4 linked regions of the Homo sapiens genome follow. The protein of the gene in region 1 purifies or fractionates together with the protein of each later gene. This does not show direct contact. Each region holds a gene or a part of one and is shown in the gene's direction. Other genes may lie near its edges.

The links.
Region 2: the proteins of EDA2R (region 1) and HSDL1 purify together in Homo sapiens (affinity purification with mass spectrometry; 3 studies listed by BioGRID and IntAct, with this or other methods). This does not show direct contact.
Region 3: the proteins of EDA2R (region 1) and ATP2B4 purify together in Homo sapiens (affinity purification with mass spectrometry; 3 studies listed by BioGRID and IntAct, with this or other methods). This does not show direct contact.
Region 4: the proteins of EDA2R (region 1) and TK1 purify together in Homo sapiens (affinity purification with mass spectrometry; 2 studies listed by BioGRID and IntAct, with this or other methods). This does not show direct contact.

Annotation. Positions count from the first base shown.
Region 1 is NC_000023.11:66,601,072-66,608,112, reverse strand, and holds part of EDA2R (tumor necrosis factor receptor superfamily member 27), read left to right. Parts: intron 1-2,886; coding exon 2,887-3,065; intron 3,066-3,606; coding exon 3,607-3,692; intron 3,693-5,315; coding exon 5,316-5,480; intron 5,481-7,041. UniProt on the Homo sapiens protein: Receptor for EDA isoform A2, but not for EDA isoform A1. Mediates the activation of the NF-kappa-B and JNK pathways. Activation seems to be mediated by binding to TRAF3 and TRAF6.
Region 2 is NC_000016.10:84,121,616-84,128,193, reverse strand, and holds the end of HSDL1 (inactive hydroxysteroid dehydrogenase-like protein 1), read left to right. Parts: intron 1-3,465; coding exon 3,466-3,564; 3' UTR 3,565-6,053; downstream 6,054-6,578.
Region 3 is NC_000001.11:203,741,809-203,744,599, forward strand, and holds the end of ATP2B4 (plasma membrane calcium-transporting ATPase 4), read left to right. Parts: 3' UTR 1-2,273; downstream 2,274-2,791. UniProt on the Homo sapiens protein: Calcium/calmodulin-regulated and magnesium-dependent enzyme that catalyzes the hydrolysis of ATP coupled with the transport of calcium out of the cell. By regulating sperm cell calcium homeostasis, may play a role in sperm motility.
Region 4 is NC_000017.11:78,177,036-78,184,076, reverse strand, and holds part of TK1 (thymidine kinase, cytosolic), read left to right. Parts: intron 1-1,394; coding exon 1,395-1,488; intron 1,489-7,041. UniProt on the Homo sapiens protein: Cell-cycle-regulated enzyme of importance in nucleotide metabolism. Catalyzes the first enzymatic step in the salvage pathway converting thymidine into thymidine monophosphate.

The DNA of each region.
Region 1 (7,041 bases):
TACCTACTCAAATTCTCTAGTGAAGTTTTCATTTCATTTATCTTACTTTTTAGCTCCAGTATTCATGTTTGGTTCCATTTTACAATTTTTCTTAACCAATATTCTCACTTTGTTTATACATTTGTTTCCTGATTTCTTTTAGTTCTTTGTCCATGTGTGTCTTTGAGCAAATTTAAGACAGTTCTTTTAGTCTTTGTCTACTAAGTGCAATGTCTGGGCTTCCTCAAGAATAGTCTCAATTCTTTCTTTTTCTTGTTCCTTTGAATGGGCCACACTTGCCTGTTTCTTTTTACACTGTGTGATTTATTTTTTTGTTGTTAAAAACTGGGCAGTTTTGTATTGTAATGAAGTAACTCTGGTAGTCAGATTTCCCCTCTTCCTGTTTTACTTTTGGTTTTGGTTTTGTTTGTTTGTTTTCTAGATTTGTGTTGTTGAAGGCTATAGTAGTCCATCTGTTGTTGTTATTATTATCATTATTGTTATTATTATTATTTTGTTTGGGACTGGGTATTGCTCTGTCACCCCAACTGGAGTGTAGTGTCATGGTTATTGCTGACTTCAGCCTCCACTTCCCGGGCTCTAGCGATCCTCCCATCTCAGCCACCTGAGTAGCTGGGACCACAGGTGCATGCCACCATTCCCAACTAATTTTTGTATTTTTGGCAACAAGGCTTTGCCGTGTTGCCTAGGCTAGCACTCCATTTGTTTAGGTGTTTTTCCAAACTATTTTTGTAGAGACTATTTTTTGTCATGTATCGCCATTGAAACCTATGTTAATTTAGCTCATGTTCAGCTAATGTTTGGACAGCAATTTCATTGAATGCTAAAAGTTAAAAAATGACAACAACAACCAAAAGAAAAAATAGTCACACATTACTCTCACATTTTTAGATTGGCTCTGTGCTGGGGAACTACTTAAACAGTTAGCCAGATGTGCACTTAGCTTAGGGATCAGCCTGACATGTAAGCTTTAGGTCTCCACTAGTATTTTCTGAGCATGTGTCTTGTATGCACACACCTTTCTAAATTCCTCCATGTGGATACTTTTGAATGTACTTATTTCTAAAGGAACCTCCCCCAGCTTTTGCTCCCAGATTCAGACAGTCTGTTTTATGTCTTAATCCATAATCATTGCCCTAGGTATTGTGGTTTGTTAGTTTGCCTTGCAACATTTTGAAACAGTGCCCATCACTTTTCCAATCTGCATTCTCAATCGAGTGGAACATACATAAATACCTTGTATCAGTCCTTCAAATAGCCCTCAAATAGGTTAGGACAGACATACACAGTAATTTGTCAATAAGTTTTGCTTAGCTCACTCTGGAATCAGGTACTGAGGTCTCACACTAGGAATACAGGCTGAGGCTACTTTAAGACTTCCACTACTTTAGGACTGCCACTGCTCTGGGGTGAGGGATGTAACAAGTACAAGTAAAAATAGCAGAAAACTTTCCTATTATTTTCAAGTGACCTTTTTCTTGATTTAACATTTACATGGTTGATGTAAGCCTTTGAATGTTTTCCAGAGTTCTGACAACATTGATTATGACAGTTCCTGCTTGTTTTTCTATGTTTCTGTAGGGGCATAAGAGCTTGAAGCTGCCTACTCCTCCATTTTATCTGGCTTCCGCTATCATTCTTAATATATTTATTCCAAGGTTTCCAGGGGTGTCAGCATGCACTGGAAAATGAATGTATGAAGAAAATTTAAGTATCACACAGGACATGTTTTTGAGTCAAGCCTGGGAATGGCAAACAATATTAGTATCCATATTTCATTGGCTAGAAATGATGCACATGCCCCCACTTCATTGCAGTGGGGTTAAAGAATTTTGGCTAATGGTGTTCCCAGGAGAAATAAAGAATAGGTTAAGTGAACAACCAGCCAGCTTCTGCTACAACTAGCATACAATTAATATGCTTTCACAACTAGAATTGTTTCTTTGAGAAAGAGCTGTGACTGGTATCAGGCAGGAGCCTTGTTCCTGTTGAAGTTAGGCTGTCAGATCTAAGAATCTCTAGAGAGCATTTATTTCAATTTCCTCAGTGTTGGGACTTCTGATGCCCAGAAACTGGGGGTCGGGGGGAAGGAATATGGCCAAAGTTAGTACCAGAGCTGAGACAAGAGCCAGCTAGAGTGTTTGCCTCTCATCTATACCATTGGCATTCAAACATTTTTTACCATGACCTAGAGTAAGAAATAACTTTTTATCACAACCCAATATATACTTTCATGCATTTTATCTGTAAAACTTTTATAAAACAGTACTTATGTGGGTAGTGCTTATGACTATTTGTCAAATATTTCAGCTCCCCACATTCTGTCACATTGTAGAATTGCATTTTCTTGTACCTGTTGTAGTTATTAATGATCATGTGATGTGTATGGCCAAGGACATGTGAGTAAAGCAATATGGGTCATTTCTTGGGGAAAACTTTAAGAGCTTGTACGCAGTTCACAATGTTTCAATCATAAAAGCAGAAAAATAAAGCTTCTGTAACCCCGGGTACCCCATTGAGGATGATGTACAGCAGAGTCCTCAGGAACCCCCTGGTAGGCAAATATGATGAGTGAGAAATAAACTTTTATTCTTTTAAGACACTGAGATTTAGGGTTTGACTTTTGCCATACTGCAGCATAGCCTATGCTGACTGATACAAATACTTAGCTTTACTTCATTCCATGTACTCTTATATTTGATACTATTATTCTATTTCATTCTATTTTATCTTTCAATGCTGGCTGGAAGCTAGTGAATTGGTTTTATGACTTAGTAATGGGGTTGCAAGTTGCAAAATACTACCCTGTACAGTCCACTTGTCCCACAGGTGATCCCATCTCCAAGCTCCTATAAAGCAATATTAACAACCCCCATCTGTCTACAGGATTGTGGTTATGGAGAGGGTGGAGATGCCTACTGCACAGCCTGCCCTCCTCGCAGGTACAAAAGCAGCTGGGGCCACCACAGATGTCAGAGTTGCATCACCTGTGCTGTCATCAATCGTGTTCAGAAGGTCAACTGCACAGCTACCTCTAATGCTGTCTGTGGGGACTGTTTGCCCAGGTGAGCTTGCTTTATGAGACCAAGCTTGTCTGGGCTTTTCTAGCTGTTGGAGGTTTCTCCCATCCTCACCTCTCAGAACTTAGTCGAAATATTCTTCTTATAAACATAATATTCAGTTTAAGCTCCCAGAAGAGAGAAGTGGTGTCTTCCCAAGATACCTCTATAAAGTGCTTAGCACATTGTCAGTCACAGATGAGTACTTGACCGCTTTTCCATCATCACTCTCAGCTGAAGACCAAAGTTCAAGGTAAATCTCACTGTAGACTTAAAAGAAGTTATGATGTACTTGGTATCAAAGCAGTGCACCCCTCTCTTGTGGAATTAGGTCTCCTTTTGGCTACATGGTGTCATGAATGGGGGAAGAAGTAGAGTGTCTGGGTCTCTGAGTCAGAAAAAGACACAGAGGCAGATAACTCAGAAAGAGGGGTGGGCACTTACTTTCAGGTTGGCAAGATTCTTAGGAGCTGCTTTCCCAGGAAGAACTGGTCCAAGTGCATTGCTTGTTTGATCACCCTGCCATTCCTAATTGCTCTGAACACAGGTTCTACCGAAAGACACGCATTGGAGGCCTGCAGGACCAAGAGTGCATCCCGTGCACGAAGCAGACCCCCACCTCTGAGGTTCAATGTGTGTACCCAGTTCTCTTCTTCCCTTTCTCCTCATCCCATTGGGTGGCAGCAAGATAGGGTAGTAAAGACTACCCATATCCCCTCATACCTTTTCATGTAGAGTAGAGTGGCAAGGGAATCAGATTAGAAGTCTGGTTTTACAACATATTATCTTTGCAACTCTATGCAAATCATTCAATCTCATTGAACCTCATTTCCTACTTCTGAAAAAAGGGTGAGTCATGATAATCATTTTTCTTCATACCTTGTGTGATGGGTATCTAGGTCTAATGAGAAAATGGATGTTAGGAAGCACTTCACAAATTATAATATTTGTAAACCTATGAGATATTATTATTATATGAAGTATATAGGAGCCCCTAGGGCTGAGGACTTGTAAGAGGCTGAATGAAGAACTAGGGTCCAATCTATGCCTATACCACTATCCATTTATCTAATCGTCTATCTTTTTTGTCTACCATCTATTTACTTACTTCCTATTTTAAAATTATTGACATATTTTTTAAATCATGAAAGTTTTCAAACATGTAGAAATATTTTTAAGTGCAGAAAAATATAAAATTAAAATGCAATCACCCAGCATCTATCCAAAGTTAATAAATCATAGCATTTTGCATATTTGCTTCAGATGTTTTAAAAGAATAAAGATTCCACAGATATAATGGAATTCTCTTCTAGATTCTCTCAGAGTCCTATTACCTCCCTACCTCCTCAGATACAACCACTATCCTGAAATTGTATGTATTCTGTTGGTAGGCTATGCTAAAGTAACAAACAAACTGCAAAATCTCAGTGACTTTATACAATAAAAGTTTATTTTTTTTTTACTATGCAAAGGCCTTCCTACATCATTTGACTGTGCATTCTAGACCATATGTCTTCCAGGTCAATGACACAGGGGAAGAGATGGAGGAGACATACTGGTTCTTAACTGCCTCAGTCTGGAAGTGACACATGTTATTTCAACTCACAGTTCATTGGCCAGAAGTACTCTGATGGCCTTACTGCAAGGGTGTAAGGGAAATACATGGGAGTATGTGGATAACTGGTGAGCACTATACCTCTGCCATACTCTCCACTAATGTTTTAATACTTGGGTTCTTTTGTGATATGTGTGCATATTCATAACCAATATATGCTATTGTTATGTATTGTATAATGTTTTATAGAAATGATATCAAGCTATATGTTCTGTTTCTCCAACTTCCTTTTTCCCCCTCTAGATTATTTATATTGATCCATAAAGGCCTTTAAGTGCTGTATAATAATGTAAGATTTTAGGATTATATCATGATTTGTTTATCTTGTGCTCTACTGATGAATTTTTTAGCTTGTTTCCATTGATCTGGATTATATAATTAGATGTGGCACAGAAAGATCACAGGATATGTGCATCTTCGATTAATTGTACTAATTTCTACATACCAGCACTATATACAAATTATTTTGCCTTGTTCTTTATAATTTTGCCTGCTCTAGAAAGAAGTAAAACCAGCATAGCCACCCTAATTGGGGAAGGCCCTAGGGAGAAGGGTGACAGCCTGAGGAAGTCCAGGTCCAGGGTCAGGGTGACTGTTTACTGCCCATGCTAACTGACCTCCCCCATTTTTTTGTCTCACAGGTGCCTTCCAGTTGAGCTTAGTGGAGGCAGATACACCCACAGTGCCCCCTCAGGAGGCCACACTTGTTGCACTGGTGAGCAGCCTGCTAGTGGTGTTTACCCTGGCCTTCCTGGGGCTCTTCTTCCTCTACTGCAAGCAGTTCTTCAACAGACATTGCCAGCGTGGTAAGGGTGGCTGTTTCATGTTTCACATGAATCAGGAACAAGGCTCTTATTGGCAGAAGAGAGGGATGTTCTGGGGTTGAGAGACAATGGGCCTTTTCTACCATGCTTGAAAACCCCATGAATAGTCTTCTGTTGGCCTGGGGAACTATCTGGGGCTGCAATGGAAAGCATGGGACTTAAGAGATTACTGAAGCCAACCCTGAGAGTTTAGAAGACCTGGTTCATTATGTTTCAGGGGATTTTAAAGGAATGTGGCACGGTGGGAAACCCCTCAGGAAAGGAATCGGGAGACCTAGGTTCTATGTCTACCTCTAAATCACCGTGTAACCTTAGACAAGTCATCTAGCCTCTTCAGACCTCTTTCTTCCTAATCTTTAAGATAAGAGATAGGATTGGATTTGTTGATTTCTGGGTTCTTTTCCAATTCTTTATATCTATACTAGTAGGTATAAATTCTAGAGCATGTCATGAATTGAGGAAGGCTTGGCTATATCTGAGATACGACTGTAATAAAAGTGGTTGAGGTCTAAGGCCACTGCTATCAGTATAATAACTTCACAAATGGGGATAACTGAAAGCCCTATGTCCAGAGTAGTTGGCAAACCTGGACTTTCTCCCTCAGATAATACTGATGTCAAGAGGTCTAGCCCAGTCCATATCAGACAGCCATGCAAAATTCCAGATGGAAAATCATATTTAAAGTCACAGTAACATTGTGATCTCTATTAAGCACAACTTCAGCTACTAGACAAGAATGTGGGACAGAAAAGCCAGCTCACTGAGGACAAAGATGGGGGAGGTGGGAATGTGGCTGATCAGGACCAGGCAAAGAGTTAGAACTCCAGCCAAGAGTACCAAGGTTCAGTGCAGCTTCATTGCCATTAAGGGAACTGAGAGTTAGGCAGGGACACTGAAACAGGAACTCAGATCAGAGAATGAAGTTGATTTATAAGGGGGAAGATAAAGTTTACTAGATAAAAGAGTGCTCAGGACTCCTTTTCAGCCCACTGGATACTGTGTGCAAAGCTGCAGTATTTGTGTGGGAAGATCCTGCTAATGTAAATTTGCCTTGGGTCAGTTTGGCTCTGGGGCCTAGCAGATGATCTTGAAAAGCCCAAGAGGTATGTTTGGTTGTGCCCTGGCTTAATTGGAGATGAATATAGCATTTCATGGGCTGCAGGATACACGGGGAACACTGTTGTTCCTTTATGATTTTTCTCAAAGTCTACTTCTTGCTAGCTCCTGGGACACTGTGACTCAAGGTAGACCTTCCTGTCTCTGACTTTGGAGGCCAGTGTCCCAGATAAGAGTTGTTGCTTAGGCCCTGGGTGCATGGACATGAAACATGAGCAATGAAGCATTTGGACTCCAGGGTCCAGAAGATGAAAATGAGAAAATATCAGAGAGCTGCCTCAGAAGAAGAGAGATGGGTAACCCTTTTCTGCTCTCCTTCTATCCTGAAGATAATAATGTGGTAACCTGCTTGGAATATGAGGGCAGGCAGTTTCCTCACTGTTTTTATAAGGGCTAGGAAGGCTAGACATTTTCTTACTTTGGAAAA
Region 2 (6,578 bases), on another chromosome or scaffold:
CCTCAGCCTCCGGAGTAGCTGGGACTACAGGTGCCTGCCACCACGCCCAGCAAATTTTTGTGTTTTTAGTAGAGATGGAGTTTCACCATGTTGGTCAGGCTGGTCTCGAACTCCTGATCTCAGGTGATCCACCCGCCTTGGCCTCCCAAAGTGCTGGGATTTACAAGCGTGAGCTGGCAGGGCGTGGTGGCTCAAGCCTGTAATCCCAGCACTTTGGGAGGCCAAGGCGGGCGGATCACGAGGTCAGGAGATCGAGACCATCCTGGCTAACACCGTGAAACCCCGTCTCTATTAAAAATACAAAAAAATTAGCTAGGCGTGGTGGTGGGCGCCTGTAGTCCCAGCTACTCAGGAGGCTGAGGCAGGAGAATGGCGTGAACCCGGGAGGCAGAGCTTGCAGTGAGCCGAGATCACACCACTGCACTCCAGCCTGGACGACAGAGCAAGACTCCGTCTCACAAAAAAAAAAAAAAAAAATACCAGTGTGAGTCACTGTACCTGGTCCGAATTTTTTTTTTTTTTTAATATTCGGAGTTTTCTTAATTATCAAACAGATATTTTTGGGACTGTTTGCATGAAGAGTATTAGATTTGCCACTACCAAATAAACATGTAAGTATATCAACAGTTAATTATGACTTTTATGAAAAGTGAGAGATTAATAAGAAGCAGTTTTGGTCGGGCGTGGTGGTGGCTCACATCTCTAATCCCAGCAGTTTGGGAGGCTGAGGCTGGTGGATCACCTGAGGTCAGGAGTTCGAGACCAGCCTTGCCAACATGGTGAAACCCCATCTCTACTAAAAATATAAAAATTAACTGGTCATGGTGGTGCACGCCTGTAGTCCCAGCTACCTGGGAGTCTGAGGCATGAGAATCGCTTGAACCCAGGATGCGGAGGTGGCAGTGAGCTGATCACGTCACTGTACTCCAGCCTGGGTGACAGAGCTAGACTCTTATCTCAAAAAAAAAAAAAAAAAAAAAAAAAGAAGAAACAGTTTTATTTAAGTAGTTGTTTCCAGGTCCTTTAATTACTTGAGAAAAGCAGAGAAACCTAAAAAGTAGTCTTAGAAGTCACTGACCATAAAATTTTTTTAGAAATAAAGATATGAGGATCAGGTTTAGGTGCAGTAGATGTTTTGACTGTGTTTATAAAACACGAACAGTTTACTCAAAATTAAATTTTGTTCACATTGATAAACTTTCCTTGAGAATGTATTTTTCTGCCAAGAAATTCTGTTAAGCTGATTTAATTCCTGGAGTAGTTTTCTGTATAAAGTTGTTAAAACTTTCTGTTTTCATTTTATGTTACTCAAATTATTTTCAACACTATCATTTTTTATTTCCAATTTTACATCAAAGATTTGATTCATCCTTTGCTGTTTTGTCCATGGCATATTTCTCTGATAGCTTTTGCTGCTGTGATTTTGTTCACAAAGTGCGTGAGTGTGTGTGTGTGTGGGTGTGGGTGTGTCCTCCCTGGAGAGTAACCTGTGTCCATTTATTGACAAGAGGATTGAATGACCTCTATTATCATTCATCAGTTCAGTTCAAGACTAGAATGTCAGTACTTGCCAAGGGCCTGTCTCTCTTCTCTTTCGTATACACGGTGTTAGAACTTTCATTCGGTTCTGAACAAATCTGTTAGAGGAGTGTAGGCTTTCTCCACCTCAGCACTGTTGGCATTGAGAGCAGGTAATTCCTTGACATGGGGAGCGTCCTGTGTATTGTAGGATGTTGAACACCATCCTGGGCCTCCACCCACTAGATACCAGTAGCATCCACTCCCAGTGTGACGACCAAATTTGTTTTCAGACATTGCCCTATGTCTGCTGCTAGCACAAAGGCCCTGAGTGAGACCCTGAAGCAGAGCAGCATCAGCAGGACTCCCTTCCCTGGTCCCCTGAGCACCCCCATCATAGGTCAAGATACCATCCCAAGGTACTGGTGTTTCTGACCTGTTTTCTTGTTGAACTTTGTTCCATACTACCCCTCAAGCCCCAGTTTTCTCATAGAGTACTAACCACGTATGCGTCTGTCTGTTCCAACTGATTTATTCCTATAATGATTTTGTGGTGTTTTTTTTTTTTTTTTTGAGACAGAGTTTTGCTCTGTTGCCCAGGCTGGAGTGCAGTGCCGCGATCTCGGCTCACTGCAAGCTCCGCCTCCCCGGTTCACACCATTTTCCTGCCTCTGCCTCCTGAGTAGCTGGGACTACAGGCTCCCGCCACCACGCCTGGCTAATTTTTTGTATTTTTAGTAGAGATGGGGTTTCACCCTGTTAGCCAGGATGGTCTCGATCTCCTGACCTCATGATCCACCCGCCTCGGCCTCCCAAAGTGTTGGGATTACAGGCATGAGCCAGCGTGCCCAGCCGATTTTGTGGTTCTTAACCAGTGAACATTTTGTTCATATCACGTTAAGTAAAGACAGAATTGTATTTACATGCAGGACAGTCCAGCCTCATTACAGAAAGTCGGGTAGGTGGGTGGTGGTCATGTTTCTGTTCCATGTAGAATCTAGGGTAAGATCTTAGGCAAAAGTAGGTATTCAGTACAGTAGTACCTGGAGGCTTTTTCCTTTGTTGTATTTAATGTGATTGGTGGGTATTTGTTGTGACTGGTGGGTATTTGTTGTGATTGATTGGTGGGTATTTGTTGTGATTGATCGGTGGGTATTTATTGTGATTGGTGGGTATTTGTTGGGATCGATTGGTGGGTATTTATTGTGATTGATTGGTGGGTATTGTGATTGGTGGGTATTTATTGTGATTGATTGGTGGGTAATGTGATTGGTGGGTATTTGTTGTGATTGATTGGTGGGTATTGTGATTGATTGGTGGGTGTTTGTGATTGGTAGGTATTTGTTGTGATTGATTGGTGGGTATTTGTTGTGATTGGTGGGTATTTGTTGTGACTGGTGGGTATTTGTTGTGATTGATTGGTGGGTATTTGTTGTGATTGGTGGGTATTTGTTGTGATTGGTGGGTATTTGTTGTGATTGGTGGGTATTTGTTGTGATTGATTGGTGGGTATTTGTTGTGATTGCTTGGTGGGTATTTGTTGTGATTGGTGGGTATTTGTTGTGATTGGTGGGTATTTGTTGTGATTGATTGGTGGGTATTTGTTGTGATTGCTTGGTGGGTATTTGTTGTGATTGGTGGGTATTTGTTTGATTGGTGGGTATTGTGATTGGTGGGTATTTGTTTGATTGGTGTGTATTGTGATTGGTGGGTATTTGTTATGATTGATTGGTGGGTATTTGTTGTGATTGGTGGGTATTTGTTGTGATTGGTGGGTATTTGTTGTGATTGATTGGTGGGTATTTGTTGTGATTGGTGGGTATTTGTTGTGATTGATTGGTGGGTATTTGTTGTGATTGGTGGGTTTCATGTGCTGGTCTGTGTACTTGTTCCTTCAGTGTTGATTTTGGGTTCTAACCTTACAACCTTTTTCTCTTTCATTTTTAGTTTCTTTTTGCACAGTATATGCCTGAATGGCTCTGGGTGTGGGGAGCAAATATTCTCAACCGTTCACTACGTAAGGAAGCCTTATCCTGCACAGCCTGAGTCTGGATGGCCACTTGAGAAGTTTTGCCAACTCCTGGGAACCTCGATATTCTGACATTTGGAAAAACACATTTAATTTATCTCCTGTGTTTCATTGCTGATTATTCAGCATACTGTTGATTCGTCATTTGCAAAACACACATAATACCGTCAGAGTGCTGTGAAAAACCTTAAGGGTGTGTGGATGGCACAGGATCAATAATGCCTGAGGCTGATTGACGACATCTACATTTCAGTGCTTTTTCCCTAAGCTGTTTGAAAGTTACGCTTTTCTGTTGTTCTAGAGCCACAGCAGTCTAATATTGAAATATAATATGATTTGTCAGGTCTTATAATTTCAGATGTTGTTTTTTAAGGGAAATTGACCATTTCACTAGAGGAGTTGTGCTGGTTTTTAAATGTGCATCAAGAAAGACTACTGAAAAGTATTATTTTGTAACTAAGATTGCTGGTACTATTAGGAAAAATCTGTGTGTATTGTATAGCTCTAGCTGTTTGACTATCTGTAATGAAAATGCTGCACTTCAACTGGTATTTCATTAGAGAACCGTGTGTGTGCGTGTGTGTGGTGCCTTTGAGCAACTTTATTTATGGTTACCATATTTTTAAAAAGATTTTTTGTCAGGGTGACTTAACATGGACTCTTATAGGGTATTAAAACAATCTAGATTATTCCTTTTCATCCTAAATAAGCCTACCAAATTTCATGCTGTTGGTTTGCCATGAATGATATTACTTCCTACATTATATTTGTGTTTTTTCAAATCTGCTATGGAATGAACTTATTCCTAGATTTGGATATGTAAGAGAAACCTGCAGTCATCTTTTGATTTATAAGGCAATTCTTGTGGATAAATAGTGATTTCTCAGCCTCTGACCCATTTTATAACTGAAATTTAGCCCTTTAGAGCTTGTTATATCTGGTTTTCCTACGTTTTTCTATGTAATATTATTCCATTCCAGTAGCATTATTGATAGAAATAGTAAGTATTTATGGAATAGTAAAATATGGACAAATTACGTGTGTGACATATCTGTCAATATAAGTTAGAAGCTTATTCTTGGTTTGTGTAATGAATTTATGTATTGTAGTGAATACCTTTACTGGTGTGAAGATAATTATGCACAAACCCTCACAATACGCGTTAACATTGAAACCTGTGAAATGTCCTTAGTTTGGGTCATATAAAGCCAACCATTTTTGAGGACCATGTACCTAGTGCTTTGAAAACTCTAAGTCACTATATGAATATGACAATATGTGCACATTTAAAATTCAGAGCTCGGCATTGTGATACTGATGCAGAAGCTAGTAGATTGGTTAAAAGTCTGGACTTCTGTGGCATTTTTTTCGTGACGTGATAATCTATCATAAGCAGACCTAAGCACAGTTTTATGAACACAATTTTGCCCATGACATTGCCTACAGGATTTCCAGATGTGACTTGCACTCAGAAGATCAGTGGTCAACTTCAGAAGCTCTTCCACGCTTAGATCATGTCTTCAGAACTTAGATGTGAAAATCTACACACTGGGAGATGCTGTGAGCCCCAAGGTTTTGATGGAGTTTGCTTGGAATCCTCTTGACTTCATGCCACATTGACGTGAACTTTGATGTATAATAAGCAGCAGCAACTTCATGTGAAAATATGGTCAGGTAGTTATATGTAAGGTTACGTGGTCCAGTAATGTCTTAGATTGATAAATTAGGTATGGAATCCATCAGTGTTACGTGATGAGAATAGGTGAACACACCTTGTCAGTGATGATGTAAACTTCTCTCCTTGGCAGGACATGGGCAAACATGCTGATTGGTGCAAATGTGGTGCCGAGCTGTCCATAGCTGCAGTGAAAGATGAAGAGCAAGACCTTCTCTAGGTTTTCTAGCTTTCATTAAATGTATTTTTTTCCCCAGAGCTAATTTGAAAGTTGATTGGACCACTGTGGATGGGGTGTCATTAAGAATGTGGGAAATAGGGGCCGAGTGCGGTGGCTCACACCTGTAATCCCAGCAGTTTGGAAGGCCAGGGCAGGTGGATCGCTTGATCCCAGGAGGTCGAGACCAGCCTGGGGAACACATCCTGTCTCTACAAAAAATACAAAAATTAGCCAGGCAGGGTGGTGCATGCCTGTAGTCCCAGCTACTTGGGAGGCTGAGGCAGGAGAATTTTTTGAGCCCAGGATGCAGAGGTTGAAGTGAGCCAAGATCGTGCCACTGCACTCCAGCCTTGAGACAGAGCGAGACCCTGTCTCAAAAAAAAAAAAAGAACGTGGGAAATATGAACCTTTGAAAGTTAATCTGTGAATTGAAAGTTTAACAATAAAAGTAGTTGTTTGTTTCCTTTGGAAGAGTTTTGTTCCAGATGTTTGTAATTTGGTTGTTTGTAATTTGGAATGAGAGAATTTTTTTTTCTTAGGAGTGATTGCAAGAAATTAACATGAACAACAGTGGTCATAACTGATTAAAAGCTGACACGTCAGTAACAAAATTGTTTATAACTATGTGCCTAGTCTTTGGAAGCTACTGGGTTGACTTCTGGATCTCTTTCTCTTGGTAGGTTGAGTAAGGTGAGGATTGATTTGAGCATGGAATTTGGCTGTGTGGATGGAGATCATTGGTGATTTTTTTCCATGAGCCATTTCAGTCTTCAGGCTAGAATTGTAATGGATTCAAGAAAGAGTGGGAAGAAGAAAAAAAGGGAAGAGAGCAGATAGAGACAGCTCCTAGGAGACTTTCCTGTGTTTTCCTATCCTCAATTACTTAAAATCTAATCACATTTGGGAACCAGAGGGTTAGATGGTTATGTCCTCAAAACCTATTCCAGTCAATTTATGTCTCAGTCTCAGTATTGGCTTATGTGTTATTTATCTTTTTAAAAATTCATATATGTTTAATGAGTATAAAGCCAAGCACAGGACAGTCGTGAATTCAGTAGAAATATTCTCTGTTATTCCTGGCCGCGTGCAGTGGCTCACGCCTGTAATACCAGCACTTTGTGAAGCCGAGGCGGGCG
Region 3 (2,791 bases), on another chromosome or scaffold:
ACTCATAGGGGAAAAAAACAGCTCACCCAAGGTGTTAGGTTTCACATATATATTCATCAACTATTTTAGAAGATTTAATTCTATCAAATCTTGTATTACCTCAGATCATTTTAAATAGCAAGCCAATAACGAGCTTTGAAGGCTATTTTACCATTCCTGTTCACAAAAGGTTCTCATGGTGCCTGACAGGTTACCCTTGAGGGCTTGTGTCTACTTTTTAAAAGTCAATGGTTTTTTTTCTTGTGTTCTAGTTTCCATAATAGGAGAGAAAATATAGAAATATATGCAAAAATTATAGTTTTCTTTAGATCAGAAACTGATATTTTTGGGTCAGCCATATGTATTTTGTTTAAAGGATTTAAAATAAAGTGCCGTCATGTAGCCCTGTGGAAGGGAGCACATAACCAGCTGTTTGGCATGACAGGTGACTTAGTATATTTGTAATTGGTTTTAAAACCAATACACCATACTTTCTTTCTGCAAACAGCCATCTTTATACTTAGGGAAGAAAAATTGTTGGGTTCTAGACTTTTTTAATATAAATTTTGTTGATATGGAATTAGGTAAGTTTAAGTGTCTATGTGCATATGTTTTTTATATAAGTTTTTTCTATTCAGTTTCACTGATCCAACTGGCAGTGGGTAAATATGGCATAAGTTAATAACACTTTTCCCCAAAATGGTGCTTTGGATTTGAAAAGGGTCTGATGGGGAGAAGGAGAACGTATCATCCTAGCTTCCTCTCTTAATAAACCTAGAAAAACGGGTAGTAAACTGTGGATAGTCAGGAAAACACCCAGCAAGGGACACAGCTGTCAGGAAATGAATCTTCCCCCCAACCCCCACCATGCAGATGGATAGACAGAATCTTTCCTGACTAGTCATTAGGATCAGGGGCCTCTGTTGGATTTGTGTTTCTTGAAGAATAGCTGGCAGAGTGGTATAAAAGACACGAATATCTCCTGGTCTATAAGGATACTCTGATTTGGGGTTTGCATTTTTCATGGTTTTTATTTCCTGTTCCCCCTGGAGTTTTCCATTAGTGAGTTTTTGTGCAAGGATCTTATTTGTGATGCCTTCCCTCCCCTAGAAAGATTTTGTGCAATATATTAAATGGGGACAGAATTCTAAATGGATAAAACAATGGCTGGTTCTAGCCCTGAGTGACAGTCTTAAGGCTAGATCCTTCCCATAGTATCATCTGTCCTCTGGAATGACTCTCCTGTCCCTAAAGGGGTTAAGAGAGAGATCACCTAGAAATCCCTCTGGACACTTGTGGGTTCTTTAGGGTTTGAGTTTCTTCTTCCCCTTGAGCTTCAGAGAGGAGAGTTGGCATGGTTAAATCTGAATGGTTACCTCACTGCTGAAAACCCAGAGGGGCGTGGCACACTCGCTTGTGTGGAAAAGCCTCTAAATGCATCCCTTCCTTTCTTTCCTGCTTCCTTTGCCTTACAATTGAAGCAGCCCGTGGTACCATCACAGTATGCAGAGACTTCCTCACCTTTCATATCTAGGGACCACCCCCGATGCATTGGTGAGGGTGGGCACTTATAAATGCCTGCTATTGTTAAGCCATTCCAGCCTCTTCCTCTGAATAGACCAGACGCCCTTTCACTTAGTTCAGTGCCAGTCCTTTTGCCTTCCCAACCCTGCTGTTAGGCCTGCTGTTCCCTTTGCTCTTGATTAGGAGAGATGGAAGGAGATGAGCTCCCATAACTGAATTGGCCTTTGGTTCATGTTTTCTCCCCATATGTATATATGCCATATGTGAATATGCCATATATATGTGCCAACAAATCTATCTACGTTGTTCTTTTCAAATTAGCACGCAGATAGGAATTTTGAGTTTCTTCTTCTTTTAGTAACTAGTATAACAAGCACTGGTATTTTTGTACAAAAAAGAAAAACAAAAGATTGACTATTGTGGTCTGCATGACATAAACAAACAAATGGTGATATCAAAGCAACGTATACCCCAGTCCAGTGTGTGTTGCCATAATTTGCAATTCAGCTTAACAGTGCACCCAATCTATATTTGCATTTTGATATTATTTAAGCTCTATGTACAAGGTTTTGCATGTATTTATATGGTTCTTAGGGAAAAAAAATGCTATAAACTGCAAATCTGAAATTCAAATGTGTTGTTCCACTGAGACCAGAAGAAGAAGAGGAGTTTTAAAAGGGATAATTTGTTGGAGCCAATAAAGCTTTTTGCTGATGAACAGAAACCAATACTGCTGTGCACTGAGAATAAAAACTCATGCCCACTTGTAACTGTGCTGTCCTCAATGCGTCTCCACTTTTGGGTAATGCCACTGATTGTCTGTTGAAGTTGAGAAGGGAAATGCCGCAACCACAAGGACAACCCCATTTAAACAGGCACAGAATTCAGCTTACCACCAGACTCTGACAACGCTTCCCTTCCCTCTGGGCCTTCGCATTGGCTTCATTCCCTTGCAGTGCAAGCTGTGCTCCACCCACCTTGGTTAGAATCCACAGTTCAGGAGCTGGAGCTTTTGGAAGAATAAGAAAGAGGCAGTCTTGGCAGTCCTTGCTTTTTTTCTTTCCTTTTTTTGTTTTTTGTTTTTTTTGGTTTTGGTTTTGGTTTGTTTTATATGAAATGTCTTTTAGGAGAAGTAGTTTCCCTTACATTAGCCGCCTTTCCCTTGGGTTCTCCACCCTCCCCCTCACTTCCCTATGGTTTAAAAAATGTCTTTCATTAATTGAGTCTTGCTAGAGACTCATATTAGGCCCCAGTTTCAGGTCAAAACAGCTTCCTGGCAGGTCATTTA
Region 4 (7,041 bases), on another chromosome or scaffold:
TGTTACACCTGGTGGGGACAGGGAAAGCAGAGGAGGTCACTTCGTTCCAGCTGTTGGAAGTACAACTTCTGGAGTCAGTCAGATCCGGGATTAAATATGAGTTCTGCCCGTGTGTCACAAGTCATCTCTAACACGGGCCACAGAGGCCAAGGCTGGGCCAGCAGCATTGATGGCTCGAGAGGCTGCCCTTGCAGGGGCCACAGCTGGCCTCCCACCTGCCCTCACTTTGTCTTTCTCTGTTTAGGGAGGGAAGAGGGAATTTAAAATGCCCAAAATACTGTTTCACACATTCTTTCCAGAACTCGAAGTAGGATTATAGCAAGGTAATAACGAAACAATAGTTGTAAAGTATGTTTTTTTGTTTGTTTGTTGTTTGTTTTTGGGACAGGGTCTCTCTCTGTCACCCAGGCTGGAGTGCAGTGGCTCAATCATAGCTTACTGTTACGTGACCCCAAACCCTTGGGCTCAAGTGATCGTCCCACCTCAGCCCCCTGAGCAGGTGGGACTACAGGCGCACACCACCACACCCAGTTAATTTTTACATTTTTTTCACACAGTGTCTCGCTGTGTTACCCAGGCTGGTCTCGAACTCCTGAGTTCAAGTGATCCTCCCGTCTTGGCCTCCCCAAAGATTACGGGCATGAGCTGCTGTGTCTGGCCAGAATACAGGATTTTAAAAATTTATGTTTTGCAACATAATTAATATAAAGACAAATATAACCCAGGCCCAGTTCTAGTTATTCATTCTTCTGAATTTTAAAAGGAAACATTTGGCTGGCCCCTAATGGTATCATGGGCCCTGGTACCTGATGAAGTTGGCCTAGTCTGCCCCCAGCTCCTGAACAGTGGAAGAGTTTTTAGTCTCATTGAGCTTTGTACTGGACATTACTAATTTCTAATCCAAAGCATCAAGTGAAGTGGCTTGTATAAATAACTGGTTTTCCTCTGGGAGGCTAAGGCGGGTGGATCACTTAAAAGTTAGGAGTCTGAGACCAGCCTGGCCAACATGGTGAAACCCCATGTCTGCTAAAAATACAAAAATTAGCTGGGTGTGATGGTGTGTGCCAGTAGTCCCAGCTACTCTTGTGGCTGAGGTGGGAGAATCGCTTGAGACCCTTGAGAATTGGGAGGTAGAGATTGCAGGGAGCCGAGATGGCGCCACTGCACTCCAGCCTGGGTGACAGAGCAAGACTCTGTTTCATAAAAAATAAATAAATAACTGGTTTTCTGGACGAGGGCCTTTCCCATAGGTGCTAACTTCTCAAAGCCCGGCTGGGTGAACACTGAGCCTGCTTTGCAGGTAGCAGGTGGTCACGACAGTGCCATTCCCTGGCCCCTGCATTGTGGCTTCTGGCCTCCCTGGCCCTGCTCACGCTCTGGCTTTCTCTTCCCAGGAACACCATGGAGGCACTGCCCGCCTGCCTGCTCCGAGACGTGGCCCAGGAGGCCCTGGGCGTGGCTGTCATAGGCATCGACGAGGGGCAGTTTGTAAGTTGGCTTGTCTTGGCATCACTCTTCCTGCCAGCTTCCGCTCTGTCCTCCCGTTTTCCCTCGCTGACTTGGAAGTTATCTGATCTTTTAGTAAAATAACAAGGTTAAATAGCTACAACTAGTGTTGGAATACCCTCTGAAGGCCCCTTTCTAGTTTCCCTGTCATAGTGTCATAGTCTTGTAGGATTCGTTTTACTTTTTTTTTTTTTTTTTTGAGACGGAGTTTTGCTCTTGTTGCCCAGGCCGGAGTACGATGGCACAATCTCACCGCAAACTTTGCTTCCTGGGTTCAAGCAATTCTCTCCTGTCTCAGCCTCCCGAGTAGCTGGGATTACAGGCATGCGCCACCACGCCCAGCTAATTTTATATTTTTAGTAGAGATGGGGTTTCTCCATGTTGGTCAAGCTGGTCTCAAACTCCCAACCTCAGGTGATCCGCCCCGCCTTGAACTCCCAAAGCGCTGGGATTACAGGCATGAGCTACCACACCTGGCCATTGTACCTTTTTAAAAATACATATATCTATTTACTGGCAAGATGCAGTGACTCACACCTGTAATCTCAGCCTGTGGGAGGCCAAGGTGGACAGATCACTTGAGCCCAGGAGTTGGAGACTCACCTGGGCAACATAGTAAAACCCCATCTCTACCAAAAAAAAAAAGAAATTAGCCAGTCATAGCAGCGCACACCTGTGGTCCCTGCTACTCAGGAGGCTGAGGCAGAAGGATGGAGCCTGGGAGGTCGAGGCTGCAGTGAGTGGTGATAGCACCACTGCACTCCAGCCCGGGCGACAAGGCCAGACCCTGTCTCAAAAAAAAAAGGGGGAGGTGGGGAGTAATGTTTGGTTTGCCTCATGGTTCCTTTTGCTTGTTTCTTATACGTTTATTTTCTTGTTGTTGAAGTACCTTTTTTAGTAGTTTTTGCAGCCAGGAGGTATAGATGGGAAGCTGCCAGTCTTTGTATGGAAATCTTTCTTTTGTCATCTAGTTTAAGCTGGGCAGCAAGAGGTAGGTTGATCTTGTGTGGGTTTGGGTTTTTTTTTTTTTTTTGAGACGGAGTCTTACTCTGTCGCCCAGGCTGGAGTGCAATGGCGTGATCTCGGCTCACTGCAACCTCTGCCACCCGGATTCAAGCGATTTTCCCACCTCGCCTCCCAAGTAGGTGGGATTACAGGCACCCACCATCATGCCTGGCTAATTTTTGTAGAGACAAGGGTTCACCATGTTGGCTAGGCTGGTCTTGAACTCCTGACCTCAGGTGATCCACCCGCCTTGGCTTCCCAAAGTGTTGGAATTACAGGCATGAGCCGCCGTGCCCGGCCTTTTTAATTTTTATTTTTTTTGAGATGGAGTCTTGCTCTGTTGCCCTGGCTGGAGTGGAGTGACGTGATCTTAGCTCACAGCAACCTCCGCCTTTTGGGTTCAAGCAGTTCTGCCTCATCCTTCCGGGTAGCTGGGATCACAGGTGCGTGCCACCATGCGTAGCTCATTTATGTATTTTTAATAGAGATGGGGTTTCACCATGTTGGCCAGCTGGTCTGGAACTCCTGACCTCAGGTGATCCGCATGCCTCAGCTCCCAAAGTGCTGGGATTACAGGCGTGAGCCACCACGCCTGGTCTTGATCTTGTTGCTTTGAAAAGTAGCAGCGCTGGTCATTGTGTTTTTGCTCAGAGGAAGGCCGCCATCTCTCTAATGTTACCTCTGGTCAGGTATTCTATCTGTTCTCTCTCAGCACAATGTGTGTAGGGGAAGCTTTGTTTCATTTATCCTGCTTTATAGCTGGTGTGCCTTTTCATTTCTGGGGAAGGAATGAAGCCATTATCACTTCAGGTATTTCTCTCCTCATCCATCTCTGAGGTGTTCTGGGTTCCATCTTCCAGAGTGTGTTTTGTTTCAGTGACTATTTTTACATCTGCTGCTCTAATTCATCATGCTCCGTTTTGTTTGACAAGTTACTGTTGGGTTATTTTTAAATTTATGCTGTTCCTTCCATTATGTTCCTGAAAATCTTTTCTTAGACTTTTCCAGATTTTTCTATTTCCTCAGGAACATATTCTGTGGTTGAGTTTCTGGGTTATTTTCTGTTATCTTAGTTTTCTTTCCTCTGCTTTGGAGATTTTATTTTTGTTAGTTTATCACAAAGAATGAAACTGAAACTCTCTCCAAGGGGTTTAGCAGACTTGACCTCTTAGGTACTTTTAGGGTTGCCTCGAAGTACACAATGTGGTGGTTTGATATAAACATAACAGGAATTTATTTCTCGCTCACAGACCCCCTACGTGGTTCCAGGCCGGTTGATGGGGAGGCCGCCCACGAGGCGGCTTAGGTCGCCCTGGCTGGCTGTATACAGACACGGAGGGGAAGAGACGTGGCGGAGCCCCTGGGTGTGAGGTTTTCATGGGCCTGACCAGAAGCTGCAAACGTCACTTCTGCTGATCTTTCAAAGACTAGAACCTGGGCACAGGGCCACCTATACGTTTAGTATACTTAGTCCAGTTCGTTTTTTGTTTGTTTTTAAAAACAGTCTTGCTCTGTGGCCCAGGCTGGAGTGCAGTGGCGCAGTCTCGGCTCACTATAACCTCCATCTCCCAGGTTCAAGTGATTCTCCCGCCTCAGCCTCCTGAGTAGCTGGGATTACAGGCTTCTGCCACCATGCCCAGCTAACCTTTTGTATTTTTAGTAGAGACGGGGTTTCATCATGTTGACCGGGCTGGTCTGGAACTCCTAACCTCAGGTGATCTGCCTGCCTCAGCCTCCCAAAGTGCTGGGATTACAGGCGTGAGCCACCACGCCTGGCCACACTTAGTCTAGTTCTATACCCTGGAGGAAGAATAAATGAGTTGGTTTGGTGAGTGCTTCGAGGTCTCTACCCGCCCTGCCTCCCAGCACAGAGCCAGGCCGCTCTGGCCTGAATACCCTGCCCGGACGTCACAGGGCCTGTCCCCTCAAAAGGCCAGTCCTGCCTTCCTGGTTCTGTTCTTGCCCAACATTCTGTATGAGTCACAGCTGCAAATTCCATTCCCGTGGGGAGGCTGACGGGTCCCTTCCCCTGTGCGGGGCATCTGCCCTGTGGAGTTGAGGCTGCCAGTGTCCGCTCTGGGTTCCCGACCACCCGGCAGCTGGCATCTCCTCCCCGCTTGGGTATGGCCATTCCGTTTCTGACCTTCAGAGGTGCGCCCCTGAGCACCCCCATGCCTCTGCGTACGTGGAGACGTCGTTGTTGCTGCCCCGTGCTTGAGGGACTCCTGGCGAGAAAGTGAGCCCAGGCTGGGAATAGGGCTGCAGCTGTTCTCTTTTGCTCCCAAACTGTGGCCTCAGAATGCATCCAGGGATTTTGCATCAGCTTTGGGGACATGGCCCTCTCAGAACAAGGAAGCTTCAGCTTTGGCAAGGCTCTCCCTCCTTCAGACCTGCCGCTGTGAGTTGTTCAATAGCTCTGTTCTCCTGGCTCTGCGTAAACCTTGTTGACAGAGGCTGACCCAGACCCCCGAGGCAGAAACCTTTCCCTTCTCCTTCCTCGACATCCAAATGCCCTGAGTCAGGAGCCAGCGTATGAAGTCCTGTCCCCTGTTCAGCCTATAGGAGGGATTTCTCGGTCTACTTCCTCCCTGGCCAGCAAGTAAAACTTGAGTTCATTCAGTGAGTATTTATTACACCCTACCCAGACATCAGCATTCTGCCCTGGCCTCTGTGTGCCCTTGTTCTCTTCAAGAAGTTCCGGGTCACCAGCCTGACCAACATGGAGAAACTCCGTCTCTACTAAAAATACAAAAATTAGCCAGGCGTGGTGGCGCATGCCTGTAATCCCAGCTACTTGGGAGGCTGAGGCAGGAGAATCGCTTGAACCCGGTAGGCGAAGGTTGCAGTGAGCCAAGATCGCCCCATTGCACTCCAAGCCTGGGCAACAACAAGAGCAAAACTCAGTCTCAAAACAAAACAAAACAAAAGAAGTTCAGGGTCTTCCCATTGCAAGCAGTTCTAGATCGAGGAGAGGGGTTCCTAGCATGGGACCCAGCAGAAGGACTGTCCTTCGCTCCTTCATTGTCTACGTGGACAGTGGATGAAGCCCAGCCGAACCTGCCTTGTTCCCGTTTTCTGGGTCAGCAGGGAAAGCCTTTCACAGAGTAGCCACCGTGCCATCCTGAGGAAGGCCCTGGGTCAGAAGCTTCTGTGCTTCTTTGTACCCCGGGCGAGACACACAGGTGCTCACACTGCTCTGTAGAAACTGTTGGCATCCAAGAGAGACTCACCTGGAAATCTCTGGAAAACCTGAAGCTCCTAGCTGGGGGTGCTGTGCTTCAGATGCTGGTGGTGGGTGGGCACCCTTGCATCAACAGCTGCACAGTGTGTGGTGGGCTTGCAGGGTCGCTTGGCAATAGTAGGAGCTCTGATTTATTTTTTTAAACTTTTTTTCTGGCTGGGCACGGTGGCTCACACCTGTAATCCCAGCACTTTGGAAGGCCTAGGCGGGCGGATCACTTGAGGTCAGGAGTTTGAGACCAGCCAGGCCAACATGGTGAAACCCCATCTCTACTAAAAATACAAAAATTAGCCAAGCGTGGTGGCACACACCTGTAATTCCAGCTACTTGGGAGGCAGAGGCACAAGAATTGCTTGAACCTGGGAGGCAGAGGTTGCAGTGAGCCAAGATTATGCCACTGCACTCCAGCCTGGATGACAGAGCGAGACTCTGTCTCAAAAAAAATAGACAAAGCCAGGCGCAGTGGCTCATGCCTGTAATCCCAACACTTTGGGAGGCCGAGGTGGGTGAATCACGAGGTCAGGAGATCGAGACCATCCTGGCTAACACGGTGAAACCCCGTCTCTACTGAAAATACAAAAAAATTAGCCAGGCGTGGTGGCGGGCACCTGTAGTCTCAGCTACTCGGGAGGCTGAGGCAGGAGAGTGGCGTGAACCCAGGAGGCGGAGCTTGCAGTGAGCTGAGATCACGCCACTGCACTCCAGCCTGGGCGACAGAGCGAGACTCCGTCTCAAAAAAAAAAAAAAAATAGACCTTTTTGTGTTTTCTGTTCTACTACACAAGTAATACAGGTTGAGTATTCCTTAACCTAAATGCCTGGGACCAGAAGTGTTTCGGATTTCAGGTTTTCGAATATTTGCATGTTCATAATATAATGAGACCTTGGGAATGAGCCCCAAGTGTAAACACAAAATCCATTTATGTTTTATAGACATCTTAGGCACATAGCCTGAGAGTAATTTTATGTATTTAGTAATTTGGACGTGAGCCACAGTTTTTGACTGTGACCTGTCCCATGAGGTCAGGTGTGGAATTTTCCACTTGTGGTGGGCGCTCAAAAAGTTTCAGATTTTGGAGCCTTTCAGGTTAGAGACATGCAATCTATAATAAGTTTAATCTAGGAAAAGTTAGGGTCTGGCACAGAGGCTCACGTCTGTGATCCCAGCACTTTGGGAGGCTGAGGCAGGCAGATCACTGGAAGTGCTGGACGGGTGGGGAAGTGCCGGGTGCAAGAACCAAGCTCTTTGACTATGGACCTCAGCCTGAGGTTGGTCAAGAGGTGGAGTGA